7 linked regions of the Homo sapiens genome follow. The protein of the gene in region 2 interacts with the protein of the main gene of each other region in a pairwise test. Each region holds a gene or a part of one and is shown on either strand. Other genes may lie near its edges.

The links.
Region 1: the proteins of THAP4 (region 2) and AIG1 interact in binary tests that used the Homo sapiens proteins (3 or more experiments, as listed by UniProt).
Region 3: the proteins of THAP4 (region 2) and COL4A5 interact in binary tests that used the Homo sapiens proteins (3 or more experiments, as listed by UniProt).
Region 4: the proteins of THAP4 (region 2) and GIMAP1 interact in binary tests that used the Homo sapiens proteins (3 or more experiments, as listed by UniProt).
Region 5: the proteins of THAP4 (region 2) and CACNG1 interact in binary tests that used the Homo sapiens proteins (3 or more experiments, as listed by UniProt).
Region 6: the proteins of THAP4 (region 2) and CYP4F2 interact in binary tests that used the Homo sapiens proteins (3 or more experiments, as listed by UniProt).
Region 7: the proteins of THAP4 (region 2) and LPAR3 interact in binary tests that used the Homo sapiens proteins (3 or more experiments, as listed by UniProt).

Annotation. Positions count from the first base shown.
Region 1 is NC_000006.12:143,137,389-143,140,888, forward strand, and holds part of AIG1 (androgen-induced gene 1 protein), read left to right. Parts: intron 1-3,500. UniProt on the Homo sapiens protein: Hydrolyzes bioactive fatty-acid esters of hydroxy-fatty acids (FAHFAs), but not other major classes of lipids. Show a preference for FAHFAs with branching distal from the carboxylate head group of the lipids.
Region 2 is NC_000002.12:241,585,159-241,588,658, forward strand, and holds part of THAP4 (peroxynitrite isomerase THAP4), read right to left. Parts: intron 1-3,500. UniProt on the Homo sapiens protein: Heme-binding protein able to scavenge peroxynitrite and to protect free L-tyrosine against peroxynitrite-mediated nitration, by acting as a peroxynitrite isomerase that converts peroxynitrite to nitrate.
Region 3 is NC_000023.11:108,600,338-108,603,837, reverse strand, and holds part of COL4A5 (collagen alpha-5(IV) chain isoform 2 precursor), read right to left. Parts: intron 2,446-3,500; coding exon 2,353-2,445; intron 1,954-2,352; coding exon 1,849-1,953; intron 875-1,848; coding exon 777-874; intron 1-776. UniProt on the Homo sapiens protein: Type IV collagen is the major structural component of glomerular basement membranes (GBM), forming a 'chicken-wire' meshwork together with laminins, proteoglycans and entactin/nidogen.
Region 4 is NC_000007.14:150,722,199-150,724,784, reverse strand, and holds the end of GIMAP1 (GTPase IMAP family member 1), read right to left. Parts: 3' UTR 501-2,586; downstream 1-500. UniProt on the Homo sapiens protein: May regulate lymphocyte survival. Required for normal levels of mature T-lymphocytes and mature B-cells.
Region 5 is NC_000017.11:67,051,054-67,054,553, reverse strand, and holds part of CACNG1 (voltage-dependent calcium channel gamma-1 subunit), read right to left. Parts: intron 559-3,500; coding exon 484-558; intron 1-483. UniProt on the Homo sapiens protein: Regulatory subunit of the voltage-gated calcium channel that gives rise to L-type calcium currents in skeletal muscle. Regulates channel inactivation kinetics.
Region 6 is NC_000019.10:15,895,275-15,899,515, forward strand, and holds the start of CYP4F2 (cytochrome P450 4F2 precursor), read right to left. Parts: upstream 2,801-4,241; 5' UTR 2,752-2,800; intron 2,339-2,751; 5' UTR 2,338-2,338; coding exon 2,140-2,337; intron 377-2,139; coding exon 232-376; intron 1-231. UniProt on the Homo sapiens protein: A cytochrome P450 monooxygenase involved in the metabolism of various endogenous substrates, including fatty acids, eicosanoids and vitamins.
Region 7 is NC_000001.11:84,865,707-84,869,206, reverse strand, and holds part of LPAR3 (lysophosphatidic acid receptor 3), read left to right. Parts: intron 1-3,068; 5' UTR 3,069-3,086; coding exon 3,087-3,500. UniProt on the Homo sapiens protein: Receptor for lysophosphatidic acid (LPA), a mediator of diverse cellular activities. May play a role in the development of ovarian cancer. Seems to be coupled to the G(i)/G(o) and G(q) families of heteromeric G proteins.

The sequences.
Region 1 (3,500 bases), on a different chromosome or scaffold from region 2:
AGTCTCCAAATACAGTCACATTGTGAGATTCTGGGGGTTAGGGCTTCCACATATGAATTTTGCAGAGGACACAATTCAGTCTATCAGTTTCTTAAGCAGCCCAAACTTGAAAGGTAGGGTCCTTGGGTCAACCAGGCTTTTGAACTTGGGAGAGGAGATCAGTATTAGCTCATACTTCTTCAGTTACCCAGCTGTGCCATTAGCTACTATCACTGAAGTAAATGCCTCTTAATGTTTGGGTCTGTTTTGACTTCATTGATTTTCATTGTTTTCAGTTAGATTCTCTTCATAACTCAACTTCCTTCACAAGTCTGTTAATTTTCCATTGTCTGCACATAAACCATGTTTTTTTAAAGGCCCTCAGAGACCCTACAGATTTTAACCTCTGTGTAGCCAGGAGAAGAGAACTCATATATATCACAAACTGTAAAGATGAGTAAGAAGTTGTTATTTAATTCAAATTCAGACCTTTCATTTGCCAGCTGATTTCGGGGGAAAACAGAAGTCTCAGTGATGTGGTCTAGCACATGCACCAAGTCCATTGTAGGAAGAATCAGAAAGTTGATCATAAGTCCTTCCAGTGGATTACTCATATTTGTCAGGTTTGTAGCTGGTAGAAGGCCCTACATGCTTGCTTTAAGACCAATTAGTAGACACTCAGATGGTCACTGAATTGCTTTTTCTGTGTGCCAAATTATATTTTCTTGGATGAAATAAATAGCCCTTAACCCTGAGAAAAACACAATGGCCAGAGAGCATTATAATTTGTTGACACTCCTCATTCCCTCATCCTTGTCCTCTGAAAACTTAAATAAATGAGTACTCAGATTGAAGCTAACCAGCAAATCTCTCAGATTCCATTGTTTAGCATAGCAGAGTTTAATGCTTTCCATATTACTTAATATTTCCTTCTTTGGACTTTCCATATAAAATTCAAATACTTTCTATCAGAATAGTCATCTAAGAGAAAATTTCCATTAGCATAAAGCACAAAGATACATACTTTCTGCATAAAAGAATTATCTAGAAAATCTCAGTCTCTCTGTGTGTACATGTATATGCATCTATATCTAATATCTAATATATGCATGTATATTATATATATCATGTATACATTTTTTCTTTTTTAACGTCTACTCCCTTGGAATTTCTATAGCCATGTCATTGCCTGTGGAAGCCTTCGTTGGCTAGAAGGATTACAATAGTAATACAATAAAAAAGTAGGCCAGGCGCAGTGGCTCACGCCTGTAATCCCAGCACTTTGGGAGGCCGAGGCGGGCAGATCATGAGGCCAGGAGATCAAGACCATCCTGGCTAACACAGTGAAACCCCATCTCTACTAAAAATACAAAAAATGAGCCGGGCGTGGTGGTGGGCTCCTTTAGTCCCAGCTACTCAGGAGGCTGATGCAGGAGAATAGCTTGAACCTGGGAGGTGGAGGTTGCAGTGAGCTGAGATCTCACCACTGCATTCCAGCCTGGGCAACAGAGCAAGACTCTGTCTCAAAAAAAAAAAAAAAAAAAGTAAACATGAGTATAGTGTTAACATGTTTTCTCTTAGCTCCCTTCTGTATGTGATATCAAATTATGTCTCTACAGGGAAAATTTTGACTTATGTTGTAAATTTTGCTACTCTCCTCAAAAGCTCATGGCATATGCCCTTTAGACATTTTTGACCTTCCTTTGGGGGAAACTTTTGCACCTGCCTGAAGCTTGAAGTATATGTCAACTCTTGGTGTCTTTCCTAAAGTTATCCCATGTATGTTTCATGGTTTATAAAACAAGTGGTGGCCTTTTTGTTTAGTTATTTGTTTTAGTACATCTGATATTTTCCTCCATCTATCACTGTCTTTGTTGTTTTGCCTATGTTTTAGAAAAAAGAGGAATAAAAGTGCCTTTCATCCCCACCCACCCCATCCCTCTTAAACCAGAAGTCCCAGCATCACACTTTCATGGCGTGTGGGTGCAGCTGTCCTAGTGGCTCTCTGACAGCCCAGCCAGTCCTCATCACTGCGCCAGGGCCTCCCGTGTCACCCAGCACATGGAGGGGATCAGTGCTCTTGAGAATCACAAAAGAAATCAAAGAATAGATAAGGAATCAGAGATGTGTAACTCACTGATGTTTTTAACTCATTTTTTTTTTGCCCATTGATATTTTGTAGTCACTATTTCCATCTTTCATAATCATCCCTGTTACTGTGAGTCACTGTTCCCTTCATAGTTACTAGTCTATTATTTTCCTAAACTTTTAAATGTTCCTTTCAAAGAAAGTGACATTTCTTTCTCTCTTTTCCCCCCTCCTTTCTCTCTCTCCTCTCCTCTGTTTTAAGAAGAATCTAGGTCAGTATTCTCTAGAAATCATCATATGTTTTCTACTGTTTCTGTCTTGCTATGCTATTTGATGTTTTGTATCTATTTATGCAATTTCCACCAGACTTCTCACTCTAATACACAGAAATTCATTTTGAGGCCAAAAAAAGCCTGATAAATTGTTCATTCCCAAATCCCATTAATTTTATTGCAAAGTCATATTTATACAATATATGAATGTGCCTCTTTACAAGTATTTGTATTTGTCTGTTCTCAGACTGCTAATGAAGACATACCCGAGACTTGAGTAATTTATAAAGGAAAGAGGTTTAATTGACTCACAGTTTCACATGGCTGTGGAGGCCTCACAATCATGGGGGAAGCCAAAGGAGGAGCAAAGTCACGTCTTACATGGTGGCAAGAGAGTGTGTTCAGGGGAACTCCCCTTTATAAAGCCATCAGATCTTGTGAGACTTATTCACTATCACGAGAACAGCATGGGAAAAACTCGCCCCCATGATTCAATTACCTCCCACTGGGTCCCTCCCACGACACACAGAGATTATGGGAGCTACAATTCAAGATGAGATTTGCGTGGGGACACAGCCAAACTATATCAGTATTTTAACACAAAATTTTTTTTTCACTAAAACATTTAATTTTGTGATTTTTCGTCTTTCTGTCTCTAATGTTATTTCCCACCTTTCCTTTCCAAGGTGCTCTGTCTTCACCGTGGCTTCAGAGCTTCCCCTGTCCTTTCTGTACCTTTTTCCCTGTTCCCGCAACTGCTCAAAAGGGTCTAGAATCCTGCTGTAGTTTCATTCTTATGACTTAGGACTTTCTTCCTTATTAAAATGCAAACTCTCCCTGGAGCAATGCCACAAGGAATCACATGAAGAAGCATCATTTTTACTTTTTCTGTGCCTCCTGGCCTGGAATGGAAGTGCCAACCTGGACGGTTCATTACATCAGAAGGATGGAAGAGCATTAATGGCCAGGAACTGATGGAAGCAGAATTATGCCTGTAGGAATCTGTAGCATAAAAATGCTTATCATGTGTGCAGATGATTAGTGATAACATTTAGAAGTAAACATCTTCATCACTTTGGTGGACACAGTCAAAATCCTAAGGGGCAGAATTCTTAAGCACCCTCTCTGTGCCAGGGGAGTACCAGACATCCTATAGCTACA
Region 2 (3,500 bases):
GAACTGATGTCCAGTGTGTTCTTGGAAAGCTCAGAAATACCATCTTTGGAACAGTAATTCATCAGAATAAATTATAGCAGCTGTTTCCAACAAGAATCCAAGCCTATGGCAGCTAAGTCCCGAATGAGTCAGCCCTATATGCCCAGAATGTTTGCCGGCAAATTGTGAGAGTGACCACTGTCAAAAGACAATTCTCTGATGGGCACTATCTCTCTAGTGCCCCAGATGTGTGGGGGGTCATGTGGGGTGGGGGGCACCAGAAGTGGATGAAACGGAGTTCTGCTTATGGCCATGGCTGACTACTCTGTAACTGACCAACCCTCCTGCAGATAACAACCCAGGTTTTAAGAAGTTTCTTTAAAGGTGTCAGAGAACCACCAAGTCAGCGAGGACCAGCACCCCAAAGAGAAGGAAGTGTGGAGGTGAGACCCAATTTGGAGCAACTGGCCCCGATGCTTTTGCTGCCCGGAAGTCAAGGGGTTCAAGGGGTGGAGGCTGAGAGGGATGTGGTAGCTAAGAGGCTGAGAAGCTAAGTGGGGCCTTCTCAGACTCATGGAGCTGGAGGGACAAACACTGGAATTCAGTGTCCATCTAGGAGGAGAGGCGCAGCCGGGCATGGTGGTATGCACATGTAGTCCCAGCTACTCGGGAAGTTGAGGCAGCAGAATTGCTTGAACCCAAGAGGTGGAGGTTGCAGTGAGCCGAGATCATGCCACTGCACTTCAGCCTGGGTGACAGAGCAAGACTCCTTCTCAAAAAAAAAAAAAAAAAGAAAAAAAAAAGAAAAAGAAAAAGAAAGAAAAAAAGCACCCTGAGGTTGGGCACGGTGGTTCACGCCTGTAATCCCAGCACTTTGGGAGGCCGAGGCGGGCGGATCACGAGGTAAGGAGATCGAGACCATCCTGGCTAACAGGGTGAAACCCCGTCTCTACTAAAAATACAAAAAAAATTAGCCGGGTGTGGTGGCGGGTGCCTGTAGTCCCAGCTACTCAGGAGGCTGAGGCAGGAGAATGGCGTGAACCCAGGAGGCGGAGCTTGCAGTGAGCCAAGATCGCGCCACTGCACTCCAGCCTGAGCAACAGAGCGAGACTCCATCTGAAGAGGAAAAAAAAAAAAAAAAAAAAAAGCACCCCAGCTTTGGGTGGGGTCCCTGAAGGGTCCCATCCCAGGAGTAAGAGTTAACCAGAAACAGGCTGGGAAGTCCGGTTTCAAACCAGCTCAGCCTCTACTGAACACGAGCTGTCCATCCTTGACCAACAGGCAGAAGCACAGAACTGCTCTTTGGTGAGGATAACATCAAAGGAAGCCTCAAGTCATCTCTACAATTTTTCACACATATTGTCTAGAATCCAAGAAAAAAAGAAAAACTCCTTAGGTTACTAGGAGATAAGATCAAAAGAAAAAACAGGAAATAGACACCTCCCCCACCCTCACCCAGGGGATACCAATACTGGAGTTATTAGAAGACAATATGGAGAATTTCTGCAGGTAATCAGAATTTATCAAAAAGATTAAAATATAAATTCTACAACTGAAAAACATAATAACTCAAATTAAGGCCCCAATAATGAAATAGACAAATTAGACACAGATGAAGAAAGGATTAGTAAAATGGAAAATGATCAGTAGGAAATATCCACATTGAAGCTTAGAGAATAATGGAAAATATGGATGAAAGCATAAGGGACACATTGAAAATTGCAAAAGACTGAACACATGTGTAACCAGAGACCCAGAAGAAGATAGGAAAGACAACAGAACACAAGCAATATTTGAAAAGATCATGGCCAATTTTCTGAGCCTAACAAAATATATCAAGCCACAAATTCTAATTATATCACAGCAAAACTTTGGCTGATAATCAAAGGCAAGAAAATAGAAACTTGAAAGCAGCCAGAGGTGGGTGTGGGTGTCATGGTTAATTTTAGGTGTCAAAGGTCAAAGGTGACCGATTAAGGAACACCTAGAAACCCGGTAAAGGATTATTTTGAGTATGTCTGAGAAGATGTTTCCAGAGGTGACTGACCAGGTGAGGAAGATCTACCCTCCATGAGGGTGGGCACCATCTAATAGGCTGGGGGCCCAGATAAAATAAAAACAAAGATAAGGCGAATATGTCCATCTGTTTGCTGGAGCTGGGATACACTCTTCCTCCCCCGTCCTTGGACACCTCCAGGCCCCCCGACCTTTGGACTCCCAGATGTCACCAGCACCTCCTCTCTCCTCAGGGCTCTGAGACCTTTGGCCCAGGACCAAGAGTGACACCACTGACTTCCCTGGTTCTGAAGCCTTTGGACTTGGACTGAGCCATGACACTGGCATCCCAGGGTTTCCAGCTTGTGGAGGGGACTTTTATAACTATTGAATGCTACATTCGTTAAGTGTACATGAAATATTCATGAAGTTAGGCCATATACTGGGGCGTAAAATAAGTCTCCAACATTTTTTAACAGACTAAAATATTAGAGGGTATGTTGTCTGGGCCTTATAGAATTGAATGAAAAATCCTGAGCAATAGAATCTATTTAAAAAATTCTCAATTATTTGGAAAATAAGTAACATATCTCTAAATAACCCTGTTCAAAGAAAAAAAAAATCACTACAAAATTAGCCGGGTGTGGTGGCACATGCCTTTAATCCCAGCTACTCGGGAGGCTGAGACAGGAGAATCACTTGAACTGGCGAGGTGGGGGTTGCAGTGAGCCAAGATTGCGCCACTGCACTCCAGCCTGGGCAACAAGAGAGAAACTCCATCTCAAAAAAAAAGAAAAAAATCACTAGAGAATAGCCACTCTACTCCAGCCTGGGCAACACAGAATACCTTGTTTTTATTGAAAGAAAAAAGTAAAAAGGAGAGAAAAGAAGGAAGGAAGGAAGGGAGGGAGGGAGGGAGGGAAGGAAAAGAAGAAAAATAAAGAAACAAACTACAGAAATGAATGAATTTAACAAAGTCACATGATACGAGATCAATATACAACAGCTAATTGTACTTCTATATACTTGCAACAAATAAGTGGAAAATTAAAAAATCATTTATAATAGCATCCCAAACCACAAAATATGTAGGAATAAATTTAACAAAATGTGTGCAAAACCAATACGTTGAAAACTACAAGAAAATATAGGATGAGACTGATCTAAATAAATGGAGCACCTTACCATGGCACTGGATTGGAGGACTCAGTTTGCCTAAGATGGCACTTCTTCCCAAATTAATTTAGAAATTCAAGTAGTTCCAATGAAAATGTTTCTAGAAACTGACAAGCTGATTCTGAAATTCATAAGGAAATGCAAAGGGTCCTAGGATAGCCAAAACAATTTTGGAAAAAAGAAAAAGAAGAAAAGTTGGGTAACTTCTATCACCTGATTCAATATAAAGCTACAATGATCAAGACAGCATGGTAACAGTATAAAGACCGAAACAGAGAAGAGTGGGACAGAAGAGAGAGTCCTGGGGAAGAACCACACACACAAAGTGAGTTGATTTTCGACAAAAGCAC
Region 3 (3,500 bases), on a different chromosome or scaffold from region 2:
TATAAACTTAGTTGATAAAGCAGCAGCAGGGTCTGAGAAGACTCACTCCAATTTTGAAAGAGGTTCTACTGTGGGTAAAATACCATCAAACAGCACCACATGCTGCAGAGAAATCTTTTCTGAAAGGAAGAGTCAATTGATGTGGCAAACTTCATTGTTGTCTTATTTAAAAAAATGGCCACAGCCACCCAACCTTCAGCAACCATCACCCTGATCAGTGGGCAGCCATCAATATTGAGTCAAAACCCTCCCCCAGCATAAAGATTATAACTTGCTGCAAGCTTAGATGATTGCTAAAATTTTTTAGCAATAAAGTATTTTTAATTAAGGTATGCATATGGTTTTTTTTAGACCTAATGCTATCGCACACTTTAAAGACTACAGTATAGTGTAAACATAACCTTTATATGTAGTGGGAAACAAAAAAAGTTGTGTGATTCACTTTATTTTGATATTCACTTTATTGTGGTGGTCTGGAACTAAACCTGCAATATCTCCAAGGTATGCCTGTATTCTCTAATCAAAGAACTGGGCATTCAAAAGTAGGTACAGAAATTAGGTTTTTTTTTTTTTTTTTTTTGCTCCAAATGTGACCTTGGACTATTAAAGATGATTTGGGGTTAAATATTTTTTTAATGGAAATATAATAAGTTATCTGTATATTTATAGTAAAGACTTGGGGCTTGGGATGATATCTGAGTCAAAATAGAGAGCTAGAAATAAGGAAGGTGGGAAAGATAAGAAAATGAGAAGGAATAAAGAAAAATGTCCCAGACCTTTGGTCCTGGAAAGCCGGGTGGCCCAGGAGGGCCTTCTAGACCAATTCTTCCAGGTGTCCCAGGTGCTCCTGGAGGTCCTGGAATTCCAGGAAAGCCTGTAAAATGATAAGTCATTTTTTAACCACCAAAGGAAAGGCACTTTAAGAAAGATATTCAAATTCCCAAACCCACATTCTACTCATGCTTAGTGACAACAGTAAGATGTCAAAAGCACAATGACATTCTACTACTTAGGATTAAGCCTTACAATCCTCTCAATCATCTTACATTCCTTTTATTTTCACATAGAGCTAATGTATGTGGAACATATGCTTTTCTGAAGAAAATGAGGGCTATTATATAATAAGATAGAACTAAATTGTAAGGAATGAATCCCACACAAAAATGCCCAAGAACTTTTCTTCTGCTTATATCTGGATGTAGTATGACAAAGGGCCTACCATATAATTTTGGAAATGATCTAAAAATAACTGCAGATATTATAGATACATACACACATAAAATCAAACCTGATACTTTTGAAAGCATTTTGTATAAATGAGTAAAGATATATTTAAGAACTGTCCTCAGACCACTGTGTGCTCTTGCCATTTGTGAGAATAAATTCTGTGAGGAATAAAGCAGAACTGAAGCATAAGCCCTAAAAATTTCAATAAATCAAGAAAATATTATTTAGCATAAAACATTACTTGGCTACACATCTGCAATAAGTCTGTTTTCTGTTTAAAAAATCCTTTAACTCAATAAACATCAAGTGCACACTATGTGTTAGGAACTGTTCTAAACCCTGAAAATACTATGGTGAACACAAAACACAATAATTCCTGTGATTTTTAAGCTTATATATCACTTTTGCATATCTAAAATGTAGATATTTTCTTGTCTGGACTGTTTTAGATAAAGATAATGAACTTACAGTGAAAATACACTGTGATTTTTTATTTACATTCTTTATAGCACAGAGAAAAAAGGTGCAATTAATATATTTTATTTGTTGAATGAATTTTATGAGAGAATAACATCATGCTAAACTTCTAACCTACTCTGCCTGCTACCCATTCCAACATACCTTTGGGACCAGGTGGTCCAGGAAGCCCAATTCCAGGGATACCTGGTTCTCCTTTGCTACCAGGTATCCCTGGCAAGCCTGGTTGCCCTGGAAGTCCAGGGTCACCTATGGAGAAACAGCAGTTATTGAAAGGAAAACGTTCAAAGAAAGAAGCCATCAGGGCCAGGTGCAGTGGCTCACTCTTGTAATCCCAGCACTTTGGGAGGCTGAGGCAATGGGTCACCTGAGGTCAGGAGTTCGAGACCAGCCTGGCCAACGTGGAGAAACTCCGTCTCTACTAAAAATACAAAAATTAACTGGGCGTGGTGGTGGGCGCCTGTAATCCCAGCTACTTGGGAGGCTGAGGCAGGGAGAACTGCTTGAACCCAGAAGTAGGAGGTTGCTGCAGCAAGCCAACATCACGCCACTGTACTCCAGCATGGGTGACAGAGCGAAACTCTGTCAAAAAAAAAAAAAAAAAAGCCATCGGTGTTGAAGTTACTTTGAAATAAATTCCTCACATACCTGGAAGACCTACATCACCATCTCTGCCTGGGTTACCAGGCAAGCCAGGCTTCCCCGGCTGGGTTATAGTCTGACCTGGATCCCCTTTAGGACCTGAAAGCAAGAGTAAATCAATGGTAAATGAGAAGTATTTACTCAACTAAAGGTCTCTTTTTAATTAAAAACAAAAAAGAAAATTATCAGCAATCTTTTGAAAATGTAAACTAACAAAAATTCACAAGAAAAACAATCTTCCACTATATATTCAAGAAATATATAAAACAGAAGGATAGAATTTCAAAAAGAAAAAGGATATGACAGCCTTAAGGACTTCCATGATTCAAGATGTATAATGGTTAATTTTAGGTTTCAACATGACTAGATTAAGAGATACTGAGATCGCTGGTAAAGCATTATTTCTAGATATGTCTGTGAGGCTGTTTCCGAAAGAAACTGACATTTGAATCAGTGAAACGAATAAGGATGATCCACCCTCACCCAATGTGTGTGGGTACCATCCAATCAGCTGAGGGACCGGATACAACAAAAAGGCAGAAAAAAAGGTGAATTCTCTGCTCTCTCTCTTTTGAAACTGGTACACCCATCCTCTCCTACCCTTGGACATCACAACTCCAGGTTCTCTGGCTTTCAGACTCTGGGACTTGTACTAAGCAGCCACTCAGGTTCTCAGGCATTCAGACTAGGACTGAGCCAAGCTACTGGCTTCCCTAGTTCTTCAACTTACAGGTGGCCTACTGTGGGATTTCTCAGCCTCCATAATCATGTAAGTCAATTCCCATAATAAATCACCTCTCATCTATCTATCTATCTATCTATCTATCTATCTATCTATCTATCTATCTAATCTACCCATCTGTCCATCCTTTTTATTGGTTCTGTTTCTCTGGAAACCCCTAAAACAGGGTGTTACCTATATAAGTATTTTTAAAATGTAGGCCAAAAGAGCATTAAAAATCAAACTGTAGTAAACAAGGAAAATATTTTTTTGGCTAATAGGTACATTTAGGTTTTACATGTGCAAAGTTCAAGTATATCTACTTCTTATTAATGGAAACATGAACTTGAAATTGGCTCAAGAAAAAAAAGATTTCCTAAACATGACACAAAAAGCACTAACCATGAGAGAAAAGATTGATAATTTTGATGAT
Region 4 (2,586 bases), on a different chromosome or scaffold from region 2:
GATAATTCAGGCTTAAAACCTGGAGTTGATCCTTCTGCAGAACTGGAAGTCAGAAAGTCTTTCTTTCCTTTTTATTTCTTGAGATTGAGATGTCTATCCTTGGTGTGTGTGTGTGTGTGTGTGTGCGCGCGCGCACGTTTGCATGCATGCAAGTGTGTGTGTTTAATTTTTGAGCAGTGGTATGCAATTCTCTTCAGTGTTCATCATGATACATTCTGCTAGCATGTAGTAGAAAAGATAGTCTAGGAGTCTTCAGACGTATGAAGTCAAGAGGATATGCACAATATAACACCATTTTGAAAGTAAAAAAAGTCCAAGTGCCTAAACTTAGTGGTATGTAAAGAGAATTATGAGGAGGGAAAGAAAATATAAAAATATGAGAAGAATTAGGCAAAGAATGTGATTGAAAGTATAAAAATAAGACTCAAACCAATAATTATAACTAAACATCCAGTATATGGAGTGATAACTTCTTAAAGAAATAAAGAGGAGGGGACAAATTTGTAAGCATCTCAATAAAGTATTTTATTGGCAGAATAAGCAAGAACCGAATCTAGTTGCCTAAGAAGAGGCCAACATTGCCACTGTTAGATTAAGAATCATGGGGGAAAAATGAGTGTTGAGCCATAGTCTAGCTATAGCTTCCCCAAGAATTTACAGAAATTCTCTTCTGGGGTACTGAATCCATAGGTGAATCTCTGGAAGGAGCACTGGCATTTGCTAGGGCTACTGTGCGGGCTGGAACTGAATATTGATTGTGTAAGAATATGTAAGAATGTACTCTGCCTGAAATCTTTTGCTCTAAAAGTTCATCATGGCCAACACTAGCTTTCAGAAATAAGCCAGATACAAGTCTTTTTGTGTAGAACAAAAGCTGATCCAGGTACCAGGGCATAGAAATATGAACAGAAACATTATCAGCACAGGACCCATACATTTTTATCTTCCAAGAGATAAAAGGAGAGGAGAGGAAGGGGGACAATTGAAATGGATATATATTTACACAATTTTTGAGGTATTGGACAGTATTTTTACTGTGTCTGGTTAAAATTAGCAAGCAAGTTTTTCCAACAGGAGGCAGTGCTGTTTTATGCTGTAATTTAAGTATAAAATTGATTTGTGCTATCAAATCACTCAAATTACATAAGTGAGGTCACAAGGCCTAACCTTGAGCTATGGGGGAAAAAGCAACCTTTAAGCCACAGCCTAAAAAAAGACTTTACCGAAGGGAATGGTGAATGCCAACTGTTCTGTAGCAGGAGAAAAGGATAAAATAAGCTGAAAGGGGTGGAAATACAGTAATTTGGGGGACCCTGTGCTTGAAGGGAAGTAAATTTCCTTAGGGCAGGAGAATATCATTAATACAATGACATGCTTGCGCGAAAGAATTTTCTGTTATCTATGGTAGAAAATTTAGAAAATGGTCAAAAGTCTGGTAGCTAGAAATCTAATATTAAAAAGGTACAGGAAAGTCAACTTTACAATTCATTTTCCAAACATTTGTTGATCCCACTTTCTATGCCAGGCACTGGGTTGTATAACGGGGATACAAAGATGAAAAAAAAAAGATCATAATCAAAGTATCTGAAAAAGAAAACCACTAAAGAAATGTTATTGAATGTAAAGGAAAACTGTAACTTCTTTAATAATACATTATTCAAATTCAAAGATGATAGCACATTTTGAGATTCAGATTGGTAATGTATCTTTGATTACACTTTGCAAATGTATTTGACAATTAACCATATACTACTACTTTTTATTACTGAGGTAGGAGGCAGGACTAGACTCTGGAGGTGGGGATTGGGCTCCAGACCACACTGAAGACAAGCTGAAAGGGAAGAGGTGAAAGAGTCTCTCCATAAAACACACTCACCAGTGCCACGTCAGGTTACCATTGCTAAGGCAACAGCTGGAAGTTTTGGCTCCTTTCCATAGCAACAATCCCACGACCTGGAAGTTACGACCTTTTTTCTAGAAATTTTGGCATAATCCACCCCTAAATTTGCATATAGTTGAAAGTGGGTATAAATGTGATTGCAGTACTGCTTCCGAGCTGCTACTCTGGGCACACTGCCTATTGGGAGCCCTGCTCCACAAAGCAGCTTTGTTGCTGCTGTACATTAAACCACTTTGATAAAAGTTGTTGTCTAACACCAGCAGCAGCACTGGCTCGTGCGCAAGTGACCGTGGACGACCACGCTGTGCCCTCCCTGCTGTCCCCTCTGGTCATCAAAGGATCCTTCCCTGGCTCGAGGCCCCTGCCTGGGCCCAGAAAGGCTGCTGAGGAAGCGAAAGGCAGGAATTAAACATGGGTTTTTCTTGAGCCACGCTTCAAAAAGTCCAACTCCCTGCAGCGGTCACCAAGGCCCTCAGGACCCCTCACCATAGCCTGCCCGAAGCCCGCAACCCACCTGGAACCTCCTGCAGTCCTTAGCCTGAGCTGGCAATTGTGCGCATGCTTGCAGACCCCTTCTTCCCAACGTGTGCTGGGGAAGACCCTAGGGCGCCTGCGCACACTCCCTCCTCCTCTTCCTCTTGAATAGAGCTAATGTGAATACCTGCTTCCCATGTCTCCATGACCTC
Region 5 (3,500 bases), on a different chromosome or scaffold from region 2:
GGGTCTGTACTCCCGACAATGGGTGTGCGTCTGAGCTCTGCGGATCCTGAAAAGCTCCCAGAGCCCACCGCACCCTCCTGGTACTCAGGGAGGGATTTCTAGGCCAGGGAGGGACTCAGACTGTCCCTGCAGACTCTAACTATCACATGCCACCAAGAGCCACCACGGGGCTTCTGAGCATTTGTTCCACATCCACACCTCCCGTCACAACAGCTGCCCTTGTGTAGGGGCCTACCAGGAGGTGCTGCTTCTGCAAACGCTCCCTGGCCCCGAGGTGTGGAAGCTCCGGGCCCTGGAGATGGAAGGCGGCTGCCTGGGGCCTCCGGAGCGGGGAGCTGACAAGGCTGTTGTTCAAATGCACCACAGGCTTCTTCTCATCAGGCGTGAGGAAGTCAGTGCTTTTGCCAATGACTTTCTGGCCCAGTGGTGCACAACACAGAAGTCCCCTCTTGTCACCCCAGACCCCTTTCCACCCAGGCTCACCCTTCTGAGTGGTGAATTCGAAGATCTCCGAGCTCTCGCCGGGGTTAAAATGCCTGAAGTAGGAACAGTTCTTCTCTGCAAAGGAGGAGACAGACTGTGAGTTGAGGGGAGCAACCCGTAGCAAGGACAGAGGCCTGGCAGAGAGCGTGGTGTCATTCTGCTCGGCATGCAGGGGGCTCTGGCAGCCTCTCTTCTCCCCAGATCCTTAATCTGGGCTGAAACATCTGTCTTTGACCCTTAGAACAACATCTCAGTGGGATAATGAGGTTGCCTGCAGGGCTGGGAGGTCTTCAGGGAGCTGAGGCTGGATGAGTCTGCAGGGCAGACGGCCTGTGGGTTCTGCACCCCATTAGGCAGACAGGGTAACCGAGGCCCAGGCTCAAGCCATTTTTCAGGGTGTGCAGGGTGCACAATCAACAAAGAACCAAACAGCAGTCTCTGTTGGGGCCGATTCTGCCCCCCCAGGGGACACTTGGCGATGCCTGGGGTTATGGTGGTGGTGAGAGGGGTACACCTGGCACCCAGCCGGTAGAGGCCACAGACGTTGCTGAACATCCCAAGACACACAGGACAGGTCCTCCCAACATGGAATGATCCAGGCCAAAATATCAAGAGTGTCAAGGTTGAGAAACCCTGGATCAACCCCAAACCTGGGACTGTGTTTCTCATCAGAATCCAGGCACACCCTGGTTCATTGGTGGGACCTGGGAAACAGTGTTTTTCAAAAGCTTTCTGGGAGAGCCTGATGTGCAGCCAGGATGGGAACCCTGCTCCAGGCCCCTTAAAATGCCCTGCAAAGGGCTTTTTCCGAGTGGCCATTGGGATGGCCTGGATGCAGATGGAACCCCTACGAGGGCTGAATGTGACCATCATGTGGTTTCACTGGGTCCCTGGTCTTTGCGAGACAGCCCAGATGAGACCTGCCCCCACAAAGCCGCTTGGCCCACCTGATAATTGTCATAAAAGCTATGGAAAGTCTGTGGGCAGTAGGAACGCAAATCTGAATTTGATGAGGGAGAGGGGAGGGGCTCAGCACAAGGAAATTCATGCTGATTTAAAATATAATTTCATTTCCATTTTTCTCTTTCAGTCTCTCTCTCATAGCTAGGTATACTATAAAATCAAAGCACAGGCCGGGCGTGGTGGCTCACACCTGTAATCCCAGCACTTTAGAAGGCTGAGGCAGGAGAATTGCTTCAACCCAGGAGGCAGAGGTTGCAGTGAGCTGAGGTCGTGTCACTGCACTCCAGCCTGGGTGACAGAGTGGGACTCTGTCTCAAAAAAAAAAAAAGCACAGTCTTATTTCTTGCTAAATACGGTTTATCTTCTTTGCTCTTGATTTAGGAAGTGGATGAATGGGTTATTTTATATTATGTTTCCTTCCAAAACTAAATTAGTTTGCTTTTTATTTGTGGAGGCCCTTCATTGATTTCTTTTCCTGTGGATCAGTGACCCTTAAATAGAAAAACATCTCTTTCTCTAGTTGAGATGGTGTCTAGTTTGCCAATTCATTTCTTCACTTCCAGGCTTCATTTAGATGCTCATAAGGCGGTTGATGCCTAGTTCTTTCTGGAAATGTACCTGCAGTGATACCAAGGCTTTTCTTTGGGATGAAGACTTTCTTTAACCGGACCTAAATCATTCTTCTTGCACCTTAAGCCTGTGGTCTCATACCATGCCCCTCCTTCCCCCCAGAGCCAGGGCTGCTGCCTCTCCTGAGGTTGAGGAAGCAAATGACCCCTGGAGATGGGATCTGGTTTAGCAGCAGTACCCATTCCTGGCATAAACAGCCTTCTCTGTGTGCTTCTATATTTAAATCACTTTCCTTTTGAACCGCGTTACCTGGGGTGTCTGACTGCTGGTGGTGATGTCAGAATTGGTGCTCTGCTATTCTCTCTGGGCATCCGGTGCTATTTTAAAGCATAATGCAGATCTCTTCTATTTGTTAGATTATTGGCTGTAGATCTCTCGAATCACTGCTTCAAAATGGCCCATGCTATGTCATAAGTCTCCATGTGTCTCCCTCTGGACAAAGAAACATTTCTGTTTCTGTTTCATTCTTGAAGGGCCAATTTCAGTTGTCAGAATTGACTGAATTCAAGTGTATTTCATGGTCAGCTGCCTCCCTGACTGCTCAAAAGCCATAAGTTAAAATCCTTCCCAGCGGAGGGCCCTGAGATGAGGGCCATGGAGTGCCTTGCTGGGGGCACAGCTGTTTGCACCTGGTGGGTTGCTGAGGTGACTCTCACACAGGTAGCATTTGGCTCACCAAATCCCCACCAGATAAACGCCAGGCTCCGCCTGGCTGCTGGCTGCTTGGATAGAAATGATCTTAACTCAGACACAGGGGTAGGCTACGTGTCTGCAGGAGCCAGGTTGTGAGCTTCTGGGGGGATGCTTTTCTTTTGGTGGTCCAGGTACAGTGTTCCTCCTCCCTCTTCTCCATTAAGTGTCCTCAAATGGAGGGAGGGGGCCTCCAGTGGGTAGGATTCCTTCTCAGGGTAACAGGAAGCCTCAGCTTCACTCTTACATGGCTGAACTGGGGGCCTGAGGACTGATGGGCTGACCTCTCCCCTTTCTTGGGCTTAGCATGTGAAAAAGACCGGTGTCTCCTGCCCTGAACCTGAGAGAAACATCCACTCCTGGGCTATGTGGCTGCCCATTGGAGACCATAAACCCTTTCATGGTCTCTAATGGCCCCTGTAGGGGTGGGGGCACGTCAGACCCAGGCCTCATTTAGGACAAATCAGGCCAGGCATCTGCCCATGTTACTCAAGAGGGTGCAGGGTCCTGTTCAGATGGACAGACCCTACTATGAGCCCCTTCCCTCCCTGCCCTGTTCCTGGGTCTAGGTGGATATTATTTGGGAAACTGAGCATCCAGGGCAACGTAAAGAGGAAGGACATCCGAGGTGGACCCATCTTAGTCATGGGTCAAGAGGAGAGGGACCGTGACGGTCCTGTGCAGACTCTCAGTCTTCCTGCCTCTGCCTCTGGGATGCCCCTCTCTGCCCCGCT
Region 6 (4,241 bases), on a different chromosome or scaffold from region 2:
TTGAGGTCTCTTAGGGTTCCAGGGCAGCCCAGAACACCAGAACAGGGGGTAGATGGCAATAGAGAGAGGAGACGCTGAGATGGAAATTGATGAATACATGAAAGAAAGATGAAGATAGCTGAGAGGGAAGGAAAGGAGAGGCCAGAGTACTGCAGGGCCCACACAGGAGCTTGGGGATAGCGGAAGTGCAGGCCTCAAATGCACTGCCCCACCAGCTGTTCCAGATGGTACCTGAGGCGTTGATGACAGACCGGATGATGTCGGGGTGGCACAAACTGAGGAGGGGGGAGATGGGTCCCATCCAGACCTTAAAGCCCTGGGGGTAGGTGGCCACCAGCTGAGTCAGAACTCTCATGCCCTCCTCTGTGGGGTTGACCTGCAAGCAAGGCAGGGGTCATTACCTTCTGTGATAGTTAATTCTAGGTGTCTACTTGACTGGGCTAAGGGATGCCCAGGTAGTTGGTCAAACATTATTTCTGGGTGTGTCTAATCTATTCATCCTATCTATCTAATTTTTCTATCTATATATCTATCTGCCTACCCATCTATCCATCAATCCATTTTATCTGTGCTTTCATCCATCCATATATTCATCTGTCTGTCTGCTTATCATCTATTAATAGCCATCTATCCGTCTAATCTATCCATCATATATATCTACTCCATCTGTCTACATAATCTATCCATCCTATCTACTCTATCTACCCATCCATCCATCATCCATCCATCCATCCATCCTATCTGTGCATCCGTGTGTCCATGCATCCATATGTCCTATTATTTGTCTATCTATCTATCCATCCATCCATCCATCCATCCATCCATCCATCCATGCTATCTGTGCATCCATGTGTCCATGCATCCATCTATTCTATTATCTATCTACCTACGTGCCTGTCCATCCATCCATCCATCCATCTATCCATCCTATCTGTGCATCTATCTATCTATCCTATTAGCTATCTATCTATCTATCTATCTATCTATCTATCTATCTATCTACATTCCTCCTGCTCTATCTATCTATCTATCCACATTCCTCCTGCTCTATCTCTCTTGGGTCCATCTCCAAGTCCCAAGGGTGCATCCCAGGGCAGAGGGAGAAGACGCACTGTCCACTCACAGAGGCCCAGTTATCTTGAGAGGAAGGATTTTCTTTTTCTGGGAGTCATTTCAGCCCAGAGGCAGCTATATGGGGAGGTCCTCACAGGGGAGATTTGTGGGGAGCAGTATCGCCTCAGGACATGTCCCTAAGGCTGGTCCCCACATGCCTTCATGTCCTGGCTGATCCACAGAGGCTCCAGTTCCTCCCATGGAGAAGGTTCTGCACATGGGAGACCTTCCCTTTTCAGCAGCCACTAGTGGAGCAGAGGTGACTCTAACTGTCCATCAGGACAATGGCTCCCACCTGGGAGCAGCTTCTGCAGCAGGCTCTGTGCTAGTGTGTCCTGTGCACCCTTCCACTTTATCTGTGGACACATCCATCAATCCTGCCATTTGCAAATGAGCAGACTAAGACCACATTCCCCAAAGAGGAGAGCGGTCTAAGTCAGAGGGCAAGGTCACGGGGAGGAGAAAGGCCAAGGAAAGCTTCTGAAAGGTGAAGTGAGTGGCCAACTTTTATCTGGGTTTGGCAACAGGTCTCATTGATAAGAGGGAGATAAGAAGAAGAATATAAGAGAAAGGTGCCTTCGGGTGTAGTGGAAGTGGGAGACGGCCCATGCCTCTCCTCTGGCCCAGCTGTACCCTCATAACAGGAAATAGTCCAGGCAAGGAGAGGACCCTGGACAGTGGGCATAAGAAGCCTCGAGTCCAGCAATGGAGAATGTGGGAATGCCAGGGACTCGCCTCTCTGTGCAGCCAACCCTCTGCCCAGGAGCCCCGCAGAGGTGCATTAATGTGGGAAGACAGGCAGGAAAAGGATTCAATGCAGGCCTGGAGTGGGAGGACAAGGAAGTGAGAAGGGCTTGCGTAGGCACCTCACAGAAATGAATAAGCAGAGGAATGAGTAAGATGCCTCCTCTGCTTCTCTGCCACCCCAGATCCCAGCCCACCCCTTCACCCCCACTCCCTAAGCCTCGTACCCCTCAGGAAGTCCATCCATCCTGAGACCTAGACCCATCCTGCTGCCACACTCACCATGCCCTGGTGTCCCCAAAACCAGTTCCGTCTTGGGGGTTGTGGGAAACACCGAAGGCGGCGGCAGTTGTCATAGAAGGCGTAGGTCCAGGCCAGGACATGGGCCAGGAGCCAGGAGGCCCCGACCAGCAGGAGGAGCAGCCAAGGGGATGCTGCCACTGGCCAGAGGCCCAGCCAGGACAGGCTCAGCTGGGACATCCTGCAGGGCAGACGGGATGGACGGTGAGATCCTGAGGCCCAGAGAACGGCCCAGGGACCTCCAGGGACAGTGGAGAGGCAGGGACGGGCAGTGCCGGAGGTAGAGCAGGGAGGGCTCAGGGATGGGTAAAAAGGGGCTGAGAGGTAAAGTCCAGAAAGGCCCAACCAAAACCAGCAGCCAAGTGGCCTCCAGTTCCCTAGTAAGCACTTAGAATGGGAAAGAGAGAGAGAGACTGATTAAAGTCCAGAAAGGCCCAGCCTGAATCACTGTGAGGTTGCCAGGGGCTTGGTTTCAGTTACTCGGAAACCACCCATCCTCCAGGCCAGCACCCAGGAGCTGCGTGGGCCTTGGGCAGTGCCCCTCTCCATCCCAGGCCAGGACCCCCCCCAGGCCTGCCACCCCCAGCCTGGCACCTTCTGTCAGGAGCAGTCTGTCCCAGACAACCTCCTCTCTCTGTCTGCTGGGAGGCCTTTGACCCTGGCCCTTGATATAGCAAAGGCTGTGGGAGGGCTGGCTGGGTTGGGCTGGGCCAACCAATCCCTGCAGCCTGGATGTGTCTCCTGAGCCTGGGCAGCCAATCAACACCTGGCGTCAGGCCAGCTGGGTGCAGAGGAATCAGCTCAGGGTCCAGATGGATGGGTAGATGCACAGATAGATAGAGTAGATAGGATGGATACATTAGGTAGATAGATAAAGTAGATATAGATAATGGATATATTAGACAGATGGATAGATAGCTATTAATAGATGATAGATAGATACATAGATAATAGGATAAATAGATGGAATGGATAAACGTACAGCTAAGATGGATTGATGGATGGATGGGTAGGCAAATATATATATAGATGAGAAATTAGATAGATAGGATGAATAGATTAGATAGACACACCCAGAAATAATGTTCCATCTCTGTCCCAGATATGTGGGATCCTCATTTGTGACATGGGAACTAGGGATCTTGGATCACTCCAATCACTCCAGATGCTACAAGGCCAGTGACTTACTCAGTATGATGCTGAGGAACATGACCATCAGAAACAGGATCAGAGTCACTCTCAAGCAAAAAAAAAAAAAAAAAAAAAAAAAAAAAAAAAAAAAACTCCAAGGATTAAATGATTTTTCCCATTGTCCTGGGGAGAAATTAATCCAAGGGAGGTCACAGGAGGGCAAATAATTCCCCATCACCACCACCACCACCATGAGCATACCATCACCCATGGAGTTTTCTGATTTACTCTTTGGCCCATTAAGCGTGAAATTTCTTATGCTAGGTTTCTTTCTGATAAGGGAGAAGAGATTAGTATCTCTACATTTCCTCTCCTCCTGCTACCTAGTCTCTGTATTCTAGGTTAAATTATAATTTATGTTGAGGATTTACAATGGCTGATACACCTAGCTGAGCCTTCTGCACAGAGATACATTGGGAGTGGAGGTTAATTGGGTCAAAGGAGAAATGCCATAAGCCCACACTCCAGCCTATCAGGGTGGATTAAAGGTCTGATTTGCCCAACTCTTGTCACACCTGCTCCCACTGAGAGGTGACAGCATGCTGGCAGTCCTCACAGCCCTCACTCGCTCTCGGCGCCTCCTCTGCCTGGGCTCCCACTTTGGCGGCACTTGAGGAGCCCTTCAGCCCACCGCTGCACTGTGGGAGCCCCTTTCTTTTCTCTTCTTTTCTTTTTTTTTGGATTTTTTTATTATTATTATTATACTTTAAGTTTTAGGGTACATGCGCACAATGTGCAGGTTAGTTACATATGTATACATGTGCCATGCTGGTGCGCTGCACCCACTAACTCGTCATCTAGCATTAGGTATATCTCCCAATGCTATCCCTCCCCCCTCCCCCCACCCCACAACAGTCCCCAGAGTGTGATGTTCCCCTTCCTGTGTCCATATG
Region 7 (3,500 bases), on a different chromosome or scaffold from region 2:
CATTGAGGTGTTAGTGCTTGATATAATTAAAAATTCGACCACATGTAAGAAATAAAACTAAAATGTTAAGATCCTTCAAAATAAAATTAGGAAAATTTGAGTAGTATTTTTGTAGTGTCTTAATTCCAATGTCTTTGTGACATATTCATCTTTATATTTCTAATAAATTAGTCAAAGATAATATAACTTTTAAATTAGAAATGTTTCTCTTAGATGTATAGAGCATGAAACAAAGTAAAATATATACATTATTTTTAATTAGAAAAGACACATAATAATTGTATTATTAAATTTTCCCATGTGGTGTCTTAGTCTATTCCTGTTGCAATAATAAAAATACTTTAGGTAATTAATAAATAACAGAAATTTATTGCTCACTATTCTGGAAGCTAGGAGGTCCAAGATCAAAGCATCAGTAGATTTGGTGTCTGGTGAGGGCCTGGTCTCTGCTTCCAGAAGGGGGCAAATGCTGTGTCCTTGAATGGCAGTGTGGCAAAAAGGGTCTCACGAGTTCTCTCAGGCCTCTTCAATAAGGGCACTAATCCCATTCACTTCCCAAAGTCCCCACCTATTAATATCACTGCAGTTAGGGTTAGGTGTCAACATGAATTTTGGAGGCACACAAACATTCAGACCATAGCAAGTGATTCTCGGATTGTTTGTCTTGAATTTCTGTATACTTTCAACATGGTTGAAAGCTGTATTTCTCTTTAAATATTTAAATTGAGTATCACTAGATTAGCACCTTGTATTTAACTCTCATATGCTGCTGGTAGAATTAAAAATATGATCTCTCAGGCTGGGTGTGATGGCTCATGCTTGTAATCTCAGCACTTTGGGAGGCCAAGGTGGGCGGATCACCTGAGATCAGGAGTTCGAGACCATCCTGGCCAACATGGTGAAACCCCGTCTCTACTAAAAACACAAAAATTAGCCGGGCGTGCTGGCATGCGCCTGTGGTCCCAGCTACTCAGGAGGCTGAGACAGGAGAATCACTTGAACCCAGGAGGCAGAGGTTGCAGTGAGCCAAGATTGCACCACTGCACTCCAGCCTGGGCGACAGAGCAAGACTCCATCTTGGAAAAAAAAAAATGCTATCTCTCTTAAGTGGAGTTTCACAAGATGTATCAGAAACCCTTAAATAGATTTATATCCTTTACTTCAATTTGAAATCTATGGGTTATTCCTAAAGAAACAATTGGCTAGATATATAAAGATTAATGAACAAGAATGCAGCCTTGCTTATAAAAGTGAAATACAGGAAGCAACCCTAATGTCCAGTATTTAGGATTAGTTAAGTCAGGTGTGGCCTATTCATATAATAGAATATTGTGAAGCTATTAAAATTATACTACCTGTATTTTTAATTTGGGGAAATTATGATATAGTGTAAATATATGATATTATCATGAATTTATTTGATATTTACAGTTAAATATTGGTGACTGTCTGCCAAAGAGAGTAATTTTTATTTTGTCATTATGAAAATTGAGTCTTCCTTTCTTGTAATTGAAAGATACTGGAACCATTTGTCTCTTGAGACTACTCCCAGTTTTTTTTAAGCATATAAAATGATATTTACCTCCCATTTGCTATGGCCAAAAAGCAATATCTAATTCATGTAAAAGTATCATTATACCATTAAAATATAAATTAAAAAAAAGACTGAGATACATTTCTATTTTGTACTACTTAATAGTTATCTGGTCTTCTTGATTCTGGTTGTGGTATTAGATTTCAGAATTTTCAGGAACTTTAAAATCTGGGGGCTTTTACTGAGCTTTTACTGTCACAGCTCCCAGAGGGCTGCTCAGTCCCTCTGCCGACTGAATCTCTGGTTCTCCAGGGAATAAGCTGCAGCCTCATTCTCAGTGAGGGAGCAGATGGTCATTCTTCCAAGAAGCTAGAACCCTGACCCTAAGCCCAATCTTCTTCCGTAGGACCGTTCATGGCTGTGGCCAGACCACTGTGAGGCAGAACACTTGGTTTTCCCCACCACGTGTAGACAGATGGGCATCCGTGGGGCTTCTGCCCAGCCCTTCCTTGGCCAAGATCCCTCGCTTTTGGGATTCAAGAGATCTTTTACTGAGAGGATTAGTGTCTTCCCTGTCTGCCTGATATCCCAGTTTGGGGTCTTCTTTCAGACAAGTGTCTGAAGAACATGCCCTCACTTAATAGATATGTTCTCACATCCACATTGAGTTGGAGATCTGCCCCAATTCCAAATCTCAGTCTTGCCTGTGGAAGCCCGATCCTCCTCCACCTGCCGTGTTGAGGAATGCTGGAAAATCCAGTGAGCAGGTTCACATTGGTACAGTTTGGGTTAGGAGACTATAAGGAAGAAGTGAACAAAAGGTAAGGAAGGGAGATATTGGGACCAAAGTCTCCATCCCTGCATCATATACCTAATATGTGAATATCAGAGTTGTTTGTTGAAACCAAAAGATGGCAAAAGGAGGATCAGGAGTGGAATCAGAAGTCATAGAAAACTGGTCTCTTGGGGTATCTGTTTGGTTATGTGAATGGTAATTCAACTCCTATTATCTTGGGAAGAATGTACCTGAAATTACCAACCTGCCGTTGATTAATGAACATATCCATAAATAACTAATGAACTGGGAGCCAGGAGGAGGCATTAACATAATGTGTTGTCATTGTGTTACCAGTGCAGAGTGGATATTGCAGGGCTCAGCACATTTGCCCTGTTGATGCCTCCATGAGAATTCATTCATTCATTCAGCCAGCCAGCCAACCTACCAATAATTACCCACCATGAGGCAGACAGAGCAACTGAATCCTAGGGTTGTAATGGTGAACAAAATAGAGATACACCCTCCTAACCTGAGCGGCCTAGCCTGGGAAACAAACAATTAAAATGTGCGCTAAATGCTGTGGTAGGAGGTCAGGGGCTATGTCCTGGACCAAAGGACATTTGCACTGAGACCTGACACTTCAGGTCTTCAACTCCCTTGATGGGAGTTAGCCAGAACGGGCTTAGAAACAGCAATTGATGGCTTAGTGACTGATTTTACAAATGATATTTGTTTCTTCTTTAAATTTCTTTCTAGGATGTTCACTTCTCCACAATGAATGAGTGTCACTATGACAAGCACATGGACTTTTTTTATAATAGGAGCAACACTGATACTGTCGATGACTGGACAGGAACAAAGCTTGTGATTGTTTTGTGTGTTGGGACGTTTTTCTGCCTGTTTATTTTTTTTTCTAATTCTCTGGTCATCGCGGCAGTGATCAAAAACAGAAAATTTCATTTCCCCTTCTACTACCTGTTGGCTAATTTAGCTGCTGCCGATTTCTTCGCTGGAATTGCCTATGTATTCCTGATGTTTAACACAGGCCCAGTTTCAAAAACTTTGACTGTCAACCGCTGGTTTCTCCGTCAGGGGCTTCTGGACAGTAGCTTGACTGCTTCCCTCACCAACTTGCTGGTTATCGCCGTGGAGAGGCACATGTCAATCATGAGGATGCGGGTCCATAGC